Linked DNA regions of Homo sapiens. The protein of the gene in region 1 interacts with the protein of each later gene in a pairwise test. Each region holds a gene or a part of one and is shown on either strand. Other genes may lie near its edges. The genes, in order: ANXA10 and BLVRB.

Region 1 (10,306 bases):
AAGTATGAATAACCTTTTAATAATATTTGCTCAGTAAGTCATACTGCAGATAAACAATCAAAGTCAGATTTCTTGGATGGAAGTTTTTGTCCTGGGAATTACTTTCTATAGGAAAAGACAGTCTTGAAAATAATCTTGCCTTATCAACAGCCTCTCCTCCCATGAGATGTCTTGTCAGTCTGCAATCACTCCTAGGTAATATGCCCTGAATTCATTTCTGATTTATGGAGTGCTTTTCCTTCACTACATGTAATCCACTGCTAAAAACCAATGCATTTATTTTTATTCTAGTTAGGCTAAAATGCTGTATGTCTCATTGCCCATAGTAGACACTGCCTAACATGCTGTTGCCTGACTTTCGTGCTCTTGAGCTATTCTGAGGCAAACTCATGAGTCAAAGCATCTTTGTAAAGATACCGCTGCTAAGTTTTTCTCATTTAATTGGGGTCACAAAAAATAATCATACCTAGGCATTTTTTTCTCTCAGTGTGGTAGAAATGATTTTGGAGTTACACAGAATCCTCTGTATCTGTCACCTACTGGCTTTTAACTCCTGGGAAAAGTATTTAATTTTTCTGAACCTTAGTATTTTCATCTGGAAAAAGGGGATGATAATACTGTCCTAGAAGTTTGCAAACACAAAAATAATATGTATAAAACATTTGGGTAGAATATCTAGTACCTCCAAAAGAACTTCAAACCTTTGCATGTTAAATGGTATTCTTATAGGACAATTTGCTGTGAAGATTAAATTAAACAAGGTATGGATGATGTATATAGACAGTAAATTATTATAATAATTTCTATATGTTTGTATAATACATAATGCTATTTTAGGTAAGAAATATGATATCAACATGTATCCTACTTTTCATACTGCTATGATTAACATTTTCTGTCAGTCAATAAATATTATAGAAGTAGGAAAAGGTGTCAAAAGGGTAGAAAAGGGAATAGGATTAAAGTTAACTCTAATCCTATTAGAGGTCAAAAGGAAGGGTATCATCTAAGAAATGAATCTATAGTAAATAAGATGCTACTGTATGAACAAGGGGGATCAGCTGATGACAAAACAGGACAAAATCAGCGAACAATTTTTACAAGAAAATTGTATTCTAAAGAGGCAGGTGTATTCTAAAGAGACATTATATATTAATAAAAAGAATTTGAGCTCTAGGGATGTAGAGATACCTGGGTTTAGATCCTGACTTGGGCAAGTACACTGTATAGTAAAATTTCCTCCATTCTAAGAGAGCTATTATAATATTATAATAATATCTTCCTATGATGTGATTTATATCTGACTAATATATCAAAACTCAGGCTTGCAATAATCTCTTAATTAAACCTTGCTTTTGAAAGATGGTCTTACAGTCAAGCACATAAGTAAAATACACTAGTGCACCAAAGATAAATTTCCTTCTTAATGTAACAAGCACACTTAAACTACCTTAATCACTGGGGCCCGCCTAACTCCAGAAATATAGAAAATAATTTTAACATATTATGTATGTTTATCTCCTACAGAAATGTAACCATTTTTCCATGATTCTTGTCTCTTGCTTGAAGTATATTTAAATTTTCTATACTTTGAGAGTAATGAACTACCTATCTCTGTGGTTCTCAAAAATGGTAACCCTTTTATATCAAGTGTATAAGTTCAGATGTTATATATACTGCATCAGGACTGCTAAATAAGGAGGATCTAGGGACATATCTTTAACAAACAACTCAGTCAATTACTACCCACATTATAAAATAAGAAATTACTTGTCAACAGAAGAGCCAGTCTCTTGCTTGAGAACATCCGATTAAAGAGATAAGCTTGGCCTCAAATATTGGCCTTTTTAGCACTAAATTCTGACCACTGGGGTCATATACCTTAAGATAGAAAATTACTTTAAACTATACTGATATTGATTATGTAAAACCATTTTACCATCCAGGCTTGCTGAGATTATACATAAAACATAACATTCATCTCTAAAATAGCTAATCAAAAGTACTTAAAATGGATTCTTAGGTATGCTCAAATCCAAATCTTTAATCTTCAGTTTTCTTTATTTGCTTCAGAAGCATAGCAAATAATTGCATTTAAAAAAAATCTTGTTAGCCTGGTAATGTTTAATAATCCCAGAAATATAATTTAAATATTCTATAAAATATGTTTCTTTTGAAAAATGGGCATATAAATAGTAACATTAGACCACACAATGCATAGAATATAATAGTAATTACTCCCAAATAACTATACTCAAATGAACAGAGAGAGAAAACAATAGGCATTTGCAAATTTAATCATTTACCATGCTGGCCTAATTACTTGATACCTTTTTTTCTCTGTAGTGAAATATAACCACCTTACAATTAATAAAACAATAATGGTAACTTTCAACTGCAAAATGAGATCTTGAAATCTTAAGATGAAATTAAGATTGTTAAACTAACAGTGATGGAAAATAGCTGCCTTTTAAGTCCTAATTCAGTATTTATCTTAAGAAACACAATATATAAGTAAAATTTTCCTGCATTGATTACTTTGTATGAGTAAACAATGTTTTGTGTGCCAAAGTTTAACAAAATAATTATGTTATAATTTTTTTGCATAAAAGTTCCCAGAAAGTTGTTTTTTGTTTTTTGAGATGGAGTCTCGCTCTGTCGCCCAGGCTGGAGTGCAGTGGCGCGATCTCGGCTCACTGCAAGCTCCGCCTCCCGGGTTCACGCCATTCTCTTGCCTCAGTCTCCTGAAAGTTTTTTTATAGTATAGATTTGTAAAGAATCATCATTAACACACATATACTTGTATATAATTTCTAAGACCACAAGGCATAAATTCACATTTGTATATAATTTTCAAGACCATGTGAAATGGAGACCTTTTCATATAAAGCATATTCAGACAACTTAATGTTCATGTTGGCTTTTTAAAAAGTGAATGACTATTAGAGCAGTTGGACTAAAATGATTCAGACAAGGCCAAAAAAAAGACTAAATCTTGTTATACATTGCTTCTATTCAACAGAAAATTATTCAAAAATAAGCTATCTTTTACAGAAAGCATGGATTTAAAATAAAATTAATAGTCAAAATTATTTTAATTTTTTATAGATAGAAGTAAATATCGAGATAAAAAATCTTATGATAACTTCAGTTAGAATTCTGAATCAAATTACATATGAAAGTAACTTGCCTCTGTGGGATAATACGTTGTTTCAAAATTAGCATGGATTTAAGATTTCATAATATTAACTCTGTTTAATAGTTATATTGAAGACCCACTAATTAAATGGATTCTTAGGTATGCTCAAATCCAAATCTTTAATCTTCAGTTTTCTTTATTTGCTTCAGAAGCATAGCAAATAATTGCATTAAAAAAATCTTGTTATCATAGTAATGTTTAATAATCCCAGAAATAAAATTTAAATATTCTATAAATGTTTCTTTCAAAAAATGGGCATAAAATAGTAAGAAAGTAGTAAGAATAAAAACAAATTAGAACAACATTTTCTGTTAAAAACGTCAAAAAACACAAATGAAATTTTATAAATCAAGTTTCAAAAGAGTGAAAAGCTTTACAGAAATAAGCATTATACTCACATAGTCTCCACAAAACATTTTGATGGTAATTGTTAACCTCAGGGATGAAAATATTTGATCGATTGCATAAACTTGTTTCACTGTGAAGCCAGAAAGAATTAAGGTTCACTGTTAAATCAAATGTAAATATGTTCACTGTTCACCTCAGACTCAGGCAAGAAAATGTAAAAGCAAATCTGGATACAGCATGACTTGAGATACTGTATTTATACTTAGTTATCAGTCATAGGTGAGTAGGCAGAATTATTGCACAAAATAAGTAGAACCATTAACCTAATCCCCAGTTGTATGTTGATTTAAGACACATAAAGTAGCCAACTAATGAAAGAAATGTAATCTTTTGAAAAAGCTGATGACTTATGGAAAGCTAAGTTGATTACCCATAAAGTTAATCATTTATTTTCTGCTTAATTGTTGTTAACATGGAAACTCTTTCAGGTGCTCCAGCCCTAGTTTCCTATCTTAAATTGCTAGGTTCTATGTGTATCCATACAATTTTAAAAGAATATTTCAACTACTGTTTATCTGCTCTTATATTAAAAAATAATGTATTTAGGGGCTGGGCCTGGTGGCTCATGCCTCTAATCCCAGCACTTTGGGAGGCTAAGGCAGGCAGATCACTTGAGGTCAGGAATTCGAGACCAGGCTGCCCAACATGGCGAAACCCCGTCTCTACTAAAAATACACAAATTAAAAAAAAATTATTTTAAATATATTTAGAAAAGAATTCATTATCCACCAATAAAAGTCTTTGGAGAAATATATTCACCATCATTTTTGCACTTAATTTTCCTATATTTATATATATGTAATTTTAATATTAACTATTGCATTTTAAGGAAATAAATTTTAGAAAAACCTGTAAAGTTCAATATAGTGTTGGAAACTATCTAGATACATTCATATATGATTCCAAAAATAACAAAATGAATCTGTATTATATTATTTTACTGCTACTTGCTATTTATTGAACAATATAGTGTTCATTTATAAAAATTTTAAAATACTTTGAATAAGAATTAGGAGCAAATAATCCTTTATTGAAAGAACCAAATACTAACAAGACAAGTGTCAACTGATCAGCATCCATAGGTCTAGAACTACCCAAAATAATTCTGATGTTAAAATATGAGTAAAAGCCATGAAGCAGTATGTATTTATGTAATACACACACACACACACACACAAACACAAATATATATATATATAATGAGCAACTATATATATATATTCTTCAGCATTCAATTTATAATATTATCTGATTACCTTACCAGTATACCTGGTACTATGAGAGATATATGGAACCATGCTGCTTGGCTCAAAAACATTAAAATCTAGTAGGTCCTACTATGTATGTGTATGTGTCTGTGTATGAATCAGGGTCTTGTGTTTTTGCTATGTAGACAGCATATAGCAATTATAAAATTGTATAATTTATATTGTATAATTGCTATAATTGTATAATTTATATTGTATAATTGCTATATGTAGACAGCATATAGCAATTATAAAATAATAGATATACTTATTAAAACTATAGGATTCAGAATTAGAAACAAAAGAAGAATTTTCAACTAAAATTGTTTTTTAATTAGAAACAATAGAAGAGTTTTCAACTACAATGATTTTTTATGATTATTTTAGTAAGTTGCAGGTCTTATGGCTTTTATTAGAGACTAAATATGTGAATATGAACAAAATTTGTCAAAATATTTGAGACCAAAATCCTTTCCCTAAGATTATTAGATAATTCAGAGAAAAGAGATTTGATAATATTCCCTAATTTTCTCCCAGATAATAGGTACTTAATGTATAATTTTATTCATCATTATTTTGTGATTTAGCTTTTAAAAAACATGTCCTTAAGGGAAATTATGATATCTGGTATTTGGCTTATAATATTCCATAGAAAAGAGGGTCATGAGACACCTTTTGATACCAGTGTGGCAAAATCTTGAAAACTATTGGGAAAGATGGTAGTTAATTATTTAATATAATTCTATTTTATGTTTATGAAAATTTCCCTGATGAAAATTTTAAAATGTTTGGTTGTAACTTATTTACTCATACTTAAATATCATTTGATTATCTACAACCTGTACAGTAATAAATGTTATCAATAATAAGGATTTTCCTCTATTCTAAACATTGTTTCAAGTCAATATACTTGTATAAATTAATTCTTACAACAACTCTATGAGCTTGGTACTGTTATTGCCCATATTTTATCCACAGCATAGATAGATAGTAGAGAGGAAATGGAATTACTCTGTAGTCAAGAATGTTGCCTAAAATCTCACTCTTGAAGTAGGAGAGTGAAATTTGAACCTAGGCAGTCCAATGACAGAACCTGTAACCTCAATCTCAATGTTACATAGATACTCAAGGAATGAAACAAAGCAACTTAAGAAGAAAATGAAAAGGCATGTTTCTTGATTCAAAGGGATTTACAGTTTAGTAGGTTTTAAAAATTAACAGAATACAAGATGATAAATGGTAAGAGCCATAAGCAAGTTGCAAAAAATATTTTGAACAATTCCTCAAGAGGCAAGTTACTTAGGGAGCAAGTAAATGAAGAATGCTTCACAGATGAATTAGCGTTTGAAATGTGACTTACCACAATGTCCTCTAGTTTCATCCATATTGTTGCACATGGCAGAATTTCCTTCTTTTTAAAGCATGTATATTATTCTATTTTATGTATACTACATTTTCTGTATCCATTTATCCATTGATGGATACTTAGGTTGTTGCCATATCTTTGCTTTTGTAGACAATGCCAGAATGAACATGGGAGTGCAGACATTTCCTTGATATACTGATCTCAATCTTTACGGATATATATCCAGAAGTGAGATTGTGGATCATATGGTAATTCCATGTTTTGTTTTTTGAGGAATCTCCATACTGTTTTTAAAAATGGCTATACTAATTTACATTCCCATGAACAGAACACCAGGTATCCTTTTTCTGCACAACCTCACCAACACTTATCTTTTGTCTTCTTGATAATTGCCATTCTAACATGTGGGAGGTGATATCTCATTGCAGCTTTAATTTTCATATCCCTCATGATTAAAGATGCCGAACATTTTTAAACATATCCTTTGTCTAATAGCATGTTTTATTTTGAGGACTCTCTCTTTGGGTCCTTGGCCCATTTTTAAATCAGGTTGCTTGTTTTCTTGTTATTGAGTTGTTTGAGTCTCTTAGATATTTTTCATATTAGCACCTTAACAGATGTGTGGTTTGCAAATATTTTCTCCCGGTACACGGATTGTTTTGTAACTCTTGATTGTTTTCTTTGCTGTGCAGAAGCATTTTGGTTTGATGCCATCCTATTTGTCTAATTTTGATTTTCTTTTCCATGCTTTTGGGGTCCTATCCAAGAAATAATTGCTGAAGTCAATGACATGGACTTCCCCCTATGTTTTCTTCTAGCAGTTTTAAACAGTTTCAGGTCTTACGTTAAGTCTTTAATCCATTTTCAGTTAATTTTTCTGTAGGGTGTAAGTTAATAGTCCAATTTTATTCTTCTGCATGTGGATATCCTATTTTTCCCAACAACATTTATTGAATAGACTGTCTTTTTATCATTGTGTGTTCTTGACACCTTTGCCAAAAAATCAATTGATCATAAATACTTGGGCTTACTTCTGGGCTTTCTAATTGGTTCCATTGGTCAGTGTGTCTGTTTTAATTCCACTTCCATGCTGTTTTGATTATGATTGATTCATAATACATTTTGATATAAGATAGTGTGATGCCTCCAGCTTTGCTCTTTTTTTTGCTCAAGATTTCTTTGGCTATCTGGGGTCTCTTCTGATTCCATGCAAATTTTAAAATTGTTTTGCCTTTTTCTGTGAAAAATCACATCAGAATTTTGATAGGAATTGTATTAAGTTTGTAGATTGCCTTGAGTGGTATGGCTACTTTAACAGTATTAATCCTTCAGTCCATGAATATAAAATATATTTTCACTTATTTGTGTTGTCTTCAGTTTTTCATCAATGTTTTGTAGTTTTTAATGTACAGATATTTTACCTGCTTGGTTAAATTTACTCCTAAGTATTTTATTTTTTCGTGATACAATTTTAAATAAGATTGTTTTCTTAGTCTGTTTTATGGATAGTTTGTTGTTAGTATATAGAAACACCATTGATTTTGCGTAATGACTTTGTAACCTGCACCCCTACTGAATTTTTAAAATCAGTTCTAACAGTTATTCAGTGGAGTTGATAGGATTTTCTATGTATAAGATTATGTCATTGGCATACAGATAAAATTTCATTTCTTCCTTTCATGTGTAAATGTCTTTTACTTCTTTCTGTGTACGCTTTTACCAGTGAGTTTTTTAAAATATTTTTATATATTTTCCTATTGCTATTTAGTGACCTTTTCCTTTATGTTGAAGGAATGCTTTCAGCATTTGTTGTAAGGCAGAACTAGCAGTGATAAAGTGCCTCAATTTCTGTTTGTTTAAGAAAGGTTTTATCTCTTTTTCAGTTTTGAAAAATAGTATTGCTGGGTATAATATTCTTGGTTAACAGTTGTTTTTCTTCTAGCTTTTTGACTATATTATCTCAGTCCCCTCTGACCTACAAGATTATTGCTGAAAAACCCATTGATAGTCTTATGAAATCTCCCTCATATGTAATGATTTGCTTTCCCCTTGTCCTTTCAGTATCCTCTCTTTGTCCATAATTTTTGACAGTCTGATTTATGATGCATTGATGTGGATCTCCTTGGATTTATTCAGTAGGTATCCATTGAGCTTCCAGTTCAGCACAGCAAGGTAGCCCGTCCTCCTTCCAATGAAAGATTGCAGGGATTTATCACTAGAGAAACGTAAGGACAAAGGCACAGAAATTGCTGCCTCTCTTATTTAGGGTTGAGGAGGTTTATCCTTGAGGCCAGGATCACAGGGAGCTTCTGGAAATCTGTGTATCCAAACTCTTTCTAGAAGTTGAAAGCTGGATTGATCTGAGGTATACAGATACTGGGAATAGTTGTGTGGATTAAAACTCCTCTTTGTTCTTTTTGCTTGAAGGAAATCCTCTGATATCCTTTTCCTGCTGCTCCTCAAGCAAGGTAATTTAATAGACAAGCTGTCTGGTAGAGATTATAAACATAGTGATATGTGTGGTACAAATCCTTCATCCCTCTAGATGCAGCTAGGAGTTGGGGATTTCTTCCTGATCGTAAGGCACAGTGCTCAGGGTGGGCTTGGTGGTTTATATCTGCCTTTCCTACTCATTTTGATGTGTGTATTTTCTCAATTCTCCAGTGTGTAGGAGTCTTTCAACTAAATTCTGTCATTCTCTTGGAAATAATTGTTTCATGTGTAGATGTTAATTTGGTGTGTCTGTGGGAGGAGGGATAGTTAGAATCCTCCTATTCTTCTATGTTGCTGGTGTCAGCATCTAGAAAAATTTGAATTACTGTCTACTGTGCCATATTAAGTAAGCATTCAATCCTTCTTGGAGTCACATTTTATCATTCATTCAATTTATTAGCAAATATTTATTAGGCAACTAAAAGGTTTCTGACAGTGTAATAGGTATTTGGGATACTTCATGAAACAAGATAGGCAAAAATCTCTGCTTTATGGTGCTTATGTACATTAACTAATGATTTGAAATTTTTATTTTATACATGATGAAAAACGTATAATTAACAAAAGTTGTTTAATATGTTTATATATATTTATGTATGGTTGACATTGACACTGCCTTTTTTGAGTACTGCAAATTGCCTAAAACAACAATCATAAGAAGAAGGCTAGACATAGAACATTTTTTTTCCAATTAGACAATGATCTCCAAATTGTTTTGTCTCAACATTCCCCAAAGAATTTGGAAAAACTATGTACCTCTTCTACTTTTTTACCAATGTCATATAAAATAATTTCATTCAAGTTTAAATAGTCACAGTTATTTTTTACTGTTCTCAAAGCATCCAATGTGATCTCAATACCATAGCAATTCAATGTCCACTTAATTCATCTAAATATGTAAAATAAGTTCTTATTTAGCAATTGAATATTTTGCATCATTTCTTTCTCTTAATTCTTATTTCCATTCTATTTCCTGCACAGTCATTTATTATGAGGTAATTTATGCCTGAATATCTTCTAGGGGATCACCTTATCATATATTTATAAATTATATTTATAACTTAAAGAAAATTGCTTGTAATGATTTCCATCTTTATTCAAACTGGAAGCCATGGGCTCTTCCCACTAATCTTTGTTATTTTCATAAATCACCCAATAAAGTAGATGTACCACATATTATTTATCCATTTACATGTTGGTAATCATTTGACTGTTACTAATAAAGATGATTTGGGGCTAATACTTGACATTTTCACCCTTTTAAGTTTTAGCCATTAAATTGTGTGCTTGTATCACATCGTGCTTCTAATTTGCAATTCTCTTATTACTAAGAATGTAATCTTTTTATATGTTAAATGGCCATCCTTACATGTTCTTACACAAATTGTTCAAATATCTTCTCCATTTTCAACAAAGTTGGTATATTTAGTGTTGATTTGCAAGAGATCTTTATAAATTCTGGACACTTAACCTTTATCAGCTTTGATTTGTAAACATTTGCTTTCAGTTTGTGGCTTGTCTTTTTATTTTTGAAATGTTGTCTTATGAATAGAGTAGTTTTTGTTTGCTTTTAATTTATAATTGAATAAACTC
Region 2 (9,622 bases), on another chromosome or scaffold:
TAGAAGGCTGAGGCGAGAGGATCGCTTGAGCTCAGGAGTTCGAGGCTGCAGTGAGCTGTGATTGCACCGCTGCACTCCAGCCTGGACAACAGAGCAAGACCTTGTCTCAACAAAAAGAAATAAATAAATAGTTTGAGTAATGTTAGTGGTTATAAAAAGGTGTGTCACAGAGACCAGCCTGGGCAACAAAGCCAGACTCTGTCGCAACAAAAAAATTTTAAAAATTAGATGGGCATGGTGGCACATGCCTGTGGTCTCAGCTACTCAGGAGGATCCCTTGAGCCTAGGAGTTGGAGGCGGTAGCGAGCTATGATGACATCATTCTCACTGCAACCTCCACCTACAAGTTTCAAGTGATTCTCCTGCCTAAGCCTCCTGAGTAGCTGGGATTACAGGCGTGTGCCACCACACCTGGCTAGTTTTTGTATTTTTGGTAGAGACGGGGTTTCACCATGTTGGCCAGGCTGGTCTCGAACTCCTGACCTCAAGCGATCCACCTGCCTTAGCCTCCTAAAGTGCTGGGATTACAGCGTGAGCCACTGCGCCTGGTCTAGGATTTCCTCTTTACAGATGAGAAAACTGCGGTGCAGAGTGTGAAGTGGGTTTTTGTCTGCAGCCTCCAGTCTCCAGTTCACAATCTCAAATCCAGTCTCTAACTTACCCCTAGTTTCTTTTTTCTTTTTTTTTTTGAGGCAGTCTCGCTCTGTCACCCAGGCTGGAGTGCAGTGGCACGATCTCAGCTCACTGCAAGCTCCTCCTCCCGGGTTTACGCCATTCTCCTGCCTCAGCCTCCCGAGTAGCTGGGACTATAGGCACCCGCCGCCACGCCTGGCTAATTTTTTGTATTTTTAGTAGAGACGGTGTTTCACTGTGTTAGCCAGGATGGTCTCAATCTCCTGACCTCGTGATCCACCCACCTTGGCCTCCCAAAGTGCTGGGATTACAGGCGTGAGCCACAGCACCCGGCTGTTTTGTTGTGTTTTGAGACAGGGTCTTGCTCTGCAGCCAAGGCTGGAGTGCAGTGGTGCCATCACGGCTCACTGCAACCTCTGCCTTCTAGGCTCAAAGGATCCTCCTACCTAAGCTTCCCAAGTATTGGGGACCACAGGTGTGTACCACCACACCCAGCTAATTTTTTGTATTTTTTTTTTGTAGAGATGGAGTTTTGCTGTGTTGCCCAGACTGGTCCTGCACTCCTGGACGCAAGCAATCCGCCCACCTTGGCCTCTCAAAGTGCTAGGATTACAGGCGTGAGCCACTGTGCCTGGCCTTACTCTGGGTTTCTTTCTAATCCTCTCAGATGCCTCCATAAAAAACAATCCTCCCCAAGCCCTAATGGATAAACTCCAAGCTCCTTAGATGACAAAAATCTTTCTAATCTTTTACCTTGACATTTGAATATGGAGGGAAGATTAAACTCTAATAATTAGAGGCTGGAAGATAATTAAAGTGTGACAATAGCACTGTGGTGCTGGAAGAGAAAAGTCCTTTTTCTTGGGACTTGCCGAAGGTGTCTGTGGGTGTGCAACTCCATTTCAAATAGTTTAGGAAGTCTGGGCGCAGTGGCTCATGCCTGTAATCCAGCACTTTGGGAGGCCAGATCACTTGAGGTCAGACCAGCCTGCCCAATATGGTGAAACCCCATCTATACTAAAAATACACACACACAAAATTAACCAGATGTGGTGGCAGGCACCTGTAATCCCAGCTACTCAGGAGGCTGAGGCAGGAGAATCCCTTGAACCCAGGAGGTGGATGTTGCAGTGAGCCAAGATCACGCCACTGTATTCCGGCCTGGGTGACAGAATGAGACTCTGTCTCAAATAAAAACAAACAAACAAAAAACCCAAATAGTTTAGGAGAACAAAAACAAAATCTATTTGTGTATGTGTATGTGCATAGATAAACCAATTACAAAACACAATCACAATTTTAAAATCAGGAATATGGCTGTTGGCCAGGTGCAGTGGCTCAGGTGTAATCCCAGCACTTTGGGAGGCTGAGGCTGGTGGATCGCTTGAGTCCGGGAGTTCGGGACCAGCCTGGGCAACATGGCGAAACTCTATCTCTACCAAAAATACAAAAATTAGCCAGCCTTATAACCCGGTCTCAAAATAAATAAATAAATAGATAGATAGCTACAAACTTAAAAATAAAAAAAGAAAAGGAATATGGTTGTTCACACGACTATTAACTTTTCTGTTTAAAAATTTTTATAATAAAAAGTTAAAAAGTATATTGAGGACCTACACATTGAAGTAAGCAGCCATGATGTATGTAAGCTAACTTCAAATGGGTCAGAAAAAAAACATTGTGTGTCTGTGAACAGAGGACGGTAGGTGTACTGGTGTCCTTTCAATTTTTCTGTAAGTTTAAGATCATTTCCAGATAAAAAGTTAAGCTGGACTCAATGGCTCATACCTGTTGCCCCAGCTATTTGAGGGGCTAAAGTGAGGGGATTCCTTGAGCCCAGGGGTTCAAGGGTACAATGAGCTATGATCAGGCCACTGCACTCCAGCCTGGGTGACAGAGCGAGACCTTGTCTCTATGTTTGTTTTTTTTTTAATGAAAAAAAAAATCCTGGCACACCTAAGACTTTAATATTTAGAAAACAATCTAAACAAAAAAAAATGAGAAAAAAGAAAGCAAATTAAATCAATTTTACAGGTTTGTCTTTTTCATGGAAGCAAAACTTAACCAGTTAAATTGGTTTTTAAGACATGGGAGAGTCTGGACGTGGTGGCTTATACCTGTAATCTCAGCACTTTGGAAGGCTGAGGTGGGAGGACTGCTTGAGGCCAGGAGTTCAACATCAGCCTGGCCAACATGGCAAAACCTTGTCTCTACCAAAAATACAAAAATTAGCAGGGCATGGTGGCAGGCGCCGGTAATCCCAGCTACTCAGGAGGCTGGGGCAGGAGAATCACTGTGGGCCACGATCTTGGTCCCAGGCACCATGAACCCGGGAGGTGGAGTGGCGGTTGCAGTGAGCTGATACCACGCCACTGCACTCCAGCCTGGGCAATGGAGTCAGACTTCATCTCAAAGAAAAAAAGACATGGGAGAAAAAAACAAAACTAAAATTAACAGCAGACCATTCCAATCTGCGAACAAAAGTAAGACCTTGTCTCTACAAAAATATCAAAAAATTAGCCAGGTGTGGTGGTGCATGCCTGTAGTCCCAGCCGCTTGGGAGGCTGCAGTGGGGAGGATCACTTGAACCCAGACTGAGGCTGCAGTGAGCCATGGTTGCACCACTGCACTCCAGCCTGGGTGACAGAAAGTCTCAAAAAAAAAAAAAAAAAGTGAACCATTCTGAAATCGCAAGTTTACTCGTGTATTACTTTTCCATTTCAGAGCTTGAGGAAAAAAGCCATAAATGATTTTGCTTCCTACCCTCCAACTAGGTCTGGCCTCCAGGCCTCTTTGCTTGCTTTGTCCTCTGCCTGGAGTGTAATTACAATCATCAGGCAGCCCTCCCTCATGCCACTTCCCTTTCCAGGGAGGCAATTTGTGTCATGAAACACACTTGAGGTCAGGAGTTCGAGACTAGCCTGGCCAACATGGCGAAACCCTGTCTCTACTAAAAATACAAAAATTAGCTGGGCATGGTGGTGCACACCTGTAGTCCCAGCTACCTGGGAGGCAGAGGCAGGAGAATCACTTGAGGCAGGAGAACCACCTCCGGGAGGCGGAGGTTGCAGGGAGCCAAGATCACGCCACTGCACTCCAGCCTGGGCATCAGAGCAAGACTCTATCTCAAACAAACCTCAAAATAACTATAAATAAATAAATAAATAAATAAATGATTATACAGGGCAACTATTTGCTTAATGTCTGTGTCCCCATAATCGGGAGCTCTGTGAGGGCAGAGACCTAGTGTCTATCCACAGCTCTATCACTTCCTCTGGGAGGCCTACCCTGACCTCTCTCAGCCTAAGTCGGACGCCTCCTCTGGGCTCCCATAGTCCTGTAGTTTCTCCCATTGTGGCCCTATCCCCTCTGCCTGCCTCCCGATCCCAGCTCCGATGATCTGGATGTCAGTTTGATCATGGATCTGTTTACCACCTCTCTCTGTGAGCCTTGTGTGAGCAGGGCCCAGGGCTGTACAGGTCACCACTGTGTCCCCAGCATCACCCAGTAAGGTTCAGGCACACAGCTGGTGTTCAGTAAATGCACAGTAACATGGAATGGCTTCAGCGTCACCTTTCAGAGGCCCCTGGGCTGCCTCCCCAGTACCCCCCAGTTCAGCCCCACCTCCATGATCCCACCACCCACCCGAGGTGCAGGCCACGACCTTGTCCACACCATGAGCCTTCATGGCTGCCACAATGTTCCGGGCGCCCTCGGACATCACTGTCGTGGGACCTTAGAGGGGACAGAGAGTGGCTGTCACTGGTGGGCGGCGGCGGCGGCAGGGGTGGCAGGGGCGGGGCCGGGGGCGGGGGTGGCGCTGGGGGCCGAGGTGTAGGGGAGGGCCGTGGGCAGAGGGGGGGCTCAGTACTGAGGTCATTGCGGGTGCCCAGCAGCACGATGACAGCGTCCTGCCCAGCCACGGTCTTGTCCACATCGGCTGCCTGCAGAACATCTCCCACTACCACGTGGGCCGGCCGGGGCCCCTCTGATGGCAGCCTGGAGGAGTCCCGCACCAGCACTGTCACTTCGTAACCTGTGGGCAAAGAGGAGCAGAGAGCCTGGTCAGTGGGCTGGCACTCTTGGGCTCCAGGAGCTGGGTCCTAGAAGCCACCATGAACTCTCAAATCCATCCCCTCCTCTGTTCTGGGGAAGTGGTCTTCAAACATTTTTGGTTTTTTCTTTTTGTTTGTTTTGTTTTTGAGACAGGGTCTTGCTCACTTGCCCAGGCTGCTGTGCAATGGTGCAGTCACAGCTCACTGCAGCCTCAACCTCCGGGGTTCAACTGATCCTCCCATCTCAGCACCCCAAGTAGCTGGGACCACAGTGTGCACCACCACACCCAGCTAATTTTGCAATCTTTTGTAGAGAAGGGGTTTTGCCATGTTGCCCAGGCTGGTCTTGAACTCCTGGGCTCAGGTGATCTGCCTGCCTCAGCCTCCCCATGAGCCACTGCGCCGTGGCCTTCAAACATTTTTGCTGGCATACCTACAGTTGATGCTTAGTATTGGGCTGATTATTAAAATAGACCATACCTTGGCCAGGCATGGTGGCTCACGCCTGTAATCTCAACACTTTGGGAGGCTGAGGCGGGCAGATCACCTGAGGTCAGGAGTTTGAGACCAGCCTGGACAACATGATGAAACCCCATTGCCACTAAAAATACAAAATTAGCCAGGCATGGTGGCACATACCTGTAATCCCAAGTACTTGGGAAGCTGAGGCAAAAGAATCACTTGACCCGACAGGCGGAGGTTGCAGTGAGCAGAGATTGCACCAGTGCACTCCAGCCTGGATGACAAAGCGAGACTCTATCTCAAAAAAAAAAAAAAAAAAAAAAAAAAAAAAAAAAAAGACCATACCTTCATGATAATTCATAAATAATCTGAACTGAAGCCTCCAAGCACCACACCCTGTAAATTCCTTACCTTCTATTTATTATTATTATTATTTTTTGAGACGGAATCTCACTCTGTAACCCAGGCTAGAGTGCAGTGGCACAATCTCGGCTCACTGCAACCTCCGCCTCCCGGGTTCAGGCACGTGCCACCACACCTGGCTATCATTATTATTTTTTTTGAGATAGAGTCTCCCTCTGTTGCCCAGGCTGGAGCACAGTGGCATGATCTCAGCTCACTGCAACCTCCGCCTCCCAAGTTCAAGCGATTCTTTTGCCTCAGCCTCCCGAGTAGCTGGGACTACAGGCGCATGCCACCACATCCAACTAATTTTTGTGTTTCTAGTAGAGATAGGGTTTTACCATGTTGGCCAGGCTGGTCTTGAACTCCTAACCTCAGGTGATCCACCCACCTTGGCCTCCCAAAGTGCTAGGATTACAGGCGTAAGCCACTGTACCCAGCCAGCAACTTCCCTACCCTCTAACAACTAAAGGGTTAATGCAGGCATTGCACTGGTCTCTGTCTCCCATCCATGGTCCTGGAAGAAACTGAGGTTCTGAGGGGGACATGGGTTGCCTACAGACTGACCAGTGCTGGGATTGGTCCCAGCCCCTGCTGCCCAGCCTTACTGCTGGGAAGCCCAGCCCTCCTTTAGTGGTCATTAAAGATTTTTAATATTGTCTTAGTATGTTCCTTCCCAAAATAATTTTGGATAATTTTGTTTCTCTTCAACACACACACACATACACACACATTTTAAAGTTCACAACTAACATATTTCTTCCTTTGTTTTAAACATTGGCAAAGGATGTTAACATTTGGGTATACTGTAATAGCAACATATATATATATATATATATATATATATTTAGAGACAGGGTCTTGCTCTGTTGCCCAGGCTGGAGTGCAGGGGCGCCAATCATAGCTCACTGTAACCTCAAATTCCTGGGCTGATGCCTATTATAATCCCAGTGCTTTGGGAGGCCAAGACAGGAAGATTGTTTGAGGCCAGGAGTTTGAGACCAGACTGGGCAACATAGTGAAACCCCGTCTCTGCAAAAAAAATAAAAAAAATCTAGCCAGGTGTGCTGGCGCAACCTGTAGTCTCAGCTACTCAGGTGGCTGAGGCTGTAGTGAGCTATGATTGTACCACTGCACTCCAGCCTGGGCTACAGAACAAGACTCTGTCTCAAAAATAAATAAATAAATTAAATTAAATTAAATTAAATTAAATTAACAAAAAGTTTAGGCTACTACCTGGCACAGAAATAAGAGTTACCTGGTGCTGGGCGCGATGGCTCACGCCTGTAATCCCAGCACTTTGGGAGGCCAAGGCAGGTGGATCACCTGAAGTTGGAAGTCCAAGACCAGCCTGACCAACACAGGGAAACCCCGCCTCTACTAAAAATACAAAATTAGCCAGGCATGGTGGTGCATGCCTGTAATCCCAGCTACTTGGGAGGCTGAGGCAGAAGAATCGCTTGAACCCAGGAGGTAGAGATTGCAGTCAGCTGAGATTGTGCCATTGCACGCCAGCCTGGGCAACAAGAGCGAAACTCCGTCTCAAACAAAACAAAACAAAACAAAACAAACAACAACAACAACAATAAACATAAAAAACCAAAAAACCCAAAAAGACACAATAAAAAAATTAAAAAAAGAGATGGGGTTTTGCATGTTGGCCAGGCTGGTCTCGAACTCCTGGACTCAAGTAATCTGCCTGGCATGGCCTCCCAAAGTGCTGGGATTACAGGCATGAGCTACCGAGCGTGGCCTATTACACCTTGTAACCATTTTGCAACTTTATCTCCTGGCCTGATCCAGGCCTACGTCTCCTTCCTGGTCCCTTTCCTGGGTCCTCCCTGGGCTCCTGGACCCAGTCCTGCCCTCTCCAATCCATATTCCACACAGCAGCCAGACAGAGTTCTCCACAGTAATATTTAAGTGCCTCTCTGCTCAGTTGCCTCCCGCAAGCCTGAAATGCCCTGTGATAAAACCCATGCTCCTCATGCCAGCCTTCCAGGCCCCTCGGGATCTGGCTTCTCCTCTCCAGGCTCTGCTGAAGCCTCTGCCCTCTTCACCCACAGCACATTTTTTTTTTTTTTTTTCTGAGACGGAGTCTCGCTCTGTTGCCCAGTCTGGAGTGCAGTGGTGCAGTCTCGGCTCACTGCAACCTCCGTCTCATGGGTTCAAGCGATTCTCCTGCCTCAGCCTCCTGAGTAGCTGTGATTACAGGCGCCTGCCACCATGCCTGGCTAATTTTTTTGTATTTTTAGTAGAGATGGGGTTTCACGATGTTAGCCAGGCTGGTCTCGAACTCCTGACTGTGTGATCCACCTGCCTCAGCCCCCCAAAGTGTTGGGATTACAGGCATGAGCCACTGCACCCGGCCCCAACTGCTCTTCTTTCAGTTCCTCAAATGCATGGTGCTGCTTCCTGCCTCCTGGACTTTGCACGTGCTGTGCCCTCTGCCTGGAACACCCTTTACCCTCTTTACCCGGTCCCCCCAGTAACTTGTACTTCCTCTGTCACAGCCCTCTTTATGCTGACCTGCAGCAAACCAAGCACCCTGTGGGTCCAGGGACTGTGTCATGTTTTCTGCCATCTCCCTGAACCTTTGTAAACACAAAAGCACAGGCATTACTGCCCCAGGGACCTTGATCCAAACTCCAGCTCTGCCACTTACCAGCTGAGGAACCTCATGCAACCTCTTCCGTGATTGGACCTCAGCTTCCTCATCTCTGAAGTGAGGATCACAGCACCAGCCTCCCCGTGCTATGTGACCACCTTTCATAGGGGAATGACACAAGATCTGTGCTGCCCTCACACATGGGGGAGCAGCAGGGGCTTGCATGGGCCAATATGGGCATTCTTTTTTTTTTTTTTTTTGAGATGAAGTCTCACTCTCTTGCCCAGGCTGGAGTGCAGTGGCGCAATCTCAGCTCACTGCAACCTCCGCCTCCCAGGTTCAAGCGATTCTCCCACCTCAGCCTCCAGAGTAGCTGGGATTATAGGTGTGCACCACAACACCCGGCGAATTTTTTGTATTTTTAGTAGAGATGGGGTTTCACGGTGTTAGCCAGGGTGGTCTCGATCTCCTGACCTTGTGATCCGCCCACCTTGGCCTCCCAAAGTGCTGGGATTACAGGCGTGAGCCATGGTGCCTGGCCTCTTTTTAAGCTTTTTGAAAATCTCAGCCATTGGCCGGGCGTGGTGGCTCACGCCTGTAATCCCAGCACTTTGGGAGGCTGAGGCGGGCGGATCATGAGGTCAGGAGATGGAGACCATCCTGGTTAACATGGTGAAACCCCATCTTTACTAAAAATACAAAAAAAATTAGCTGGGCATGGTGGCAGGCGCCTGTAGTCCCAGCTACTTGGGAGGCTGAAGCAGGAGAATGGCTGAACTCGGGAGGCGGAGCTTGCAGTGAGCTAAGATTGTGCCACTGCACTCCAGCCTGGGCGGCAGAGTGAGACTCTTGTCTCAAAAAAAAAAAAAAAAAAAAAAAAAAATCAGCCATCAATACAAAAAATTTCATTGCCTAACCTGGTGTACACAAACGCATACATATATAATTAAAATGAGTTTCACAAAACTAATACTTAACATGTGATACATTTTGATACTATGTCATCATTTGTTACCCTATATTGTTGATACACGTTGTGACCATATGTTTCAGATCTCATTGTAACTCACAGTTTGAGAAGCATCAGGTTGCAACAACCCTGCAAGGTAGGTATCATTATCCTGTCCACATTGATGGGGAAACTGAGGCAATTTTAGGCAACCGGGCCAGGATCACACAGCTAGTAGGTAGAGAAGGTTGAATTTTTACCTAAGTAAGTCTGATCCAGAGACTGCAAAATTCAATGCTAGTCTAAGTACCTCCTATATAAGATCTCATTTAATTATCCCAAGAGCCCTAGGGCAAGTACTACCAGTTTTGTCATGATCTTACACATATCTAGGTACACAGATGACAAGGCATTTGGTCACAAAGGCTGTAAGCCGCAGAGCTGGTGACTTGAATGTGGGCAGGCTGGCACCAGAGTTCATGCCTGTTAAGACTCTTGGCCCTACAGAACCAT

The links.
Region 2: the proteins of ANXA10 (region 1) and BLVRB interact in binary tests that used the Homo sapiens proteins (3 or more experiments, as listed by UniProt).

Annotation. Positions count from the first base shown.
Region 1 is NC_000004.12:168,086,010-168,096,315, reverse strand, and holds the start of ANXA10 (annexin A10), read right to left. Parts: upstream 3,780-10,306; 5' UTR 3,616-3,779; coding exon 3,598-3,615; intron 3,580-3,597; exon of another isoform or gene 1-3,579.
Region 2 is NC_000019.10:40,453,877-40,463,498, forward strand, and holds part of BLVRB (flavin reductase (NADPH)), read right to left. Parts: intron 4,670-9,622; coding exon 4,505-4,669; intron 4,369-4,504; coding exon 4,279-4,368; intron 1-4,278. UniProt on the Homo sapiens protein: Enzyme that can both act as a NAD(P)H-dependent reductase and a S-nitroso-CoA-dependent nitrosyltransferase. Promotes fetal heme degradation during development.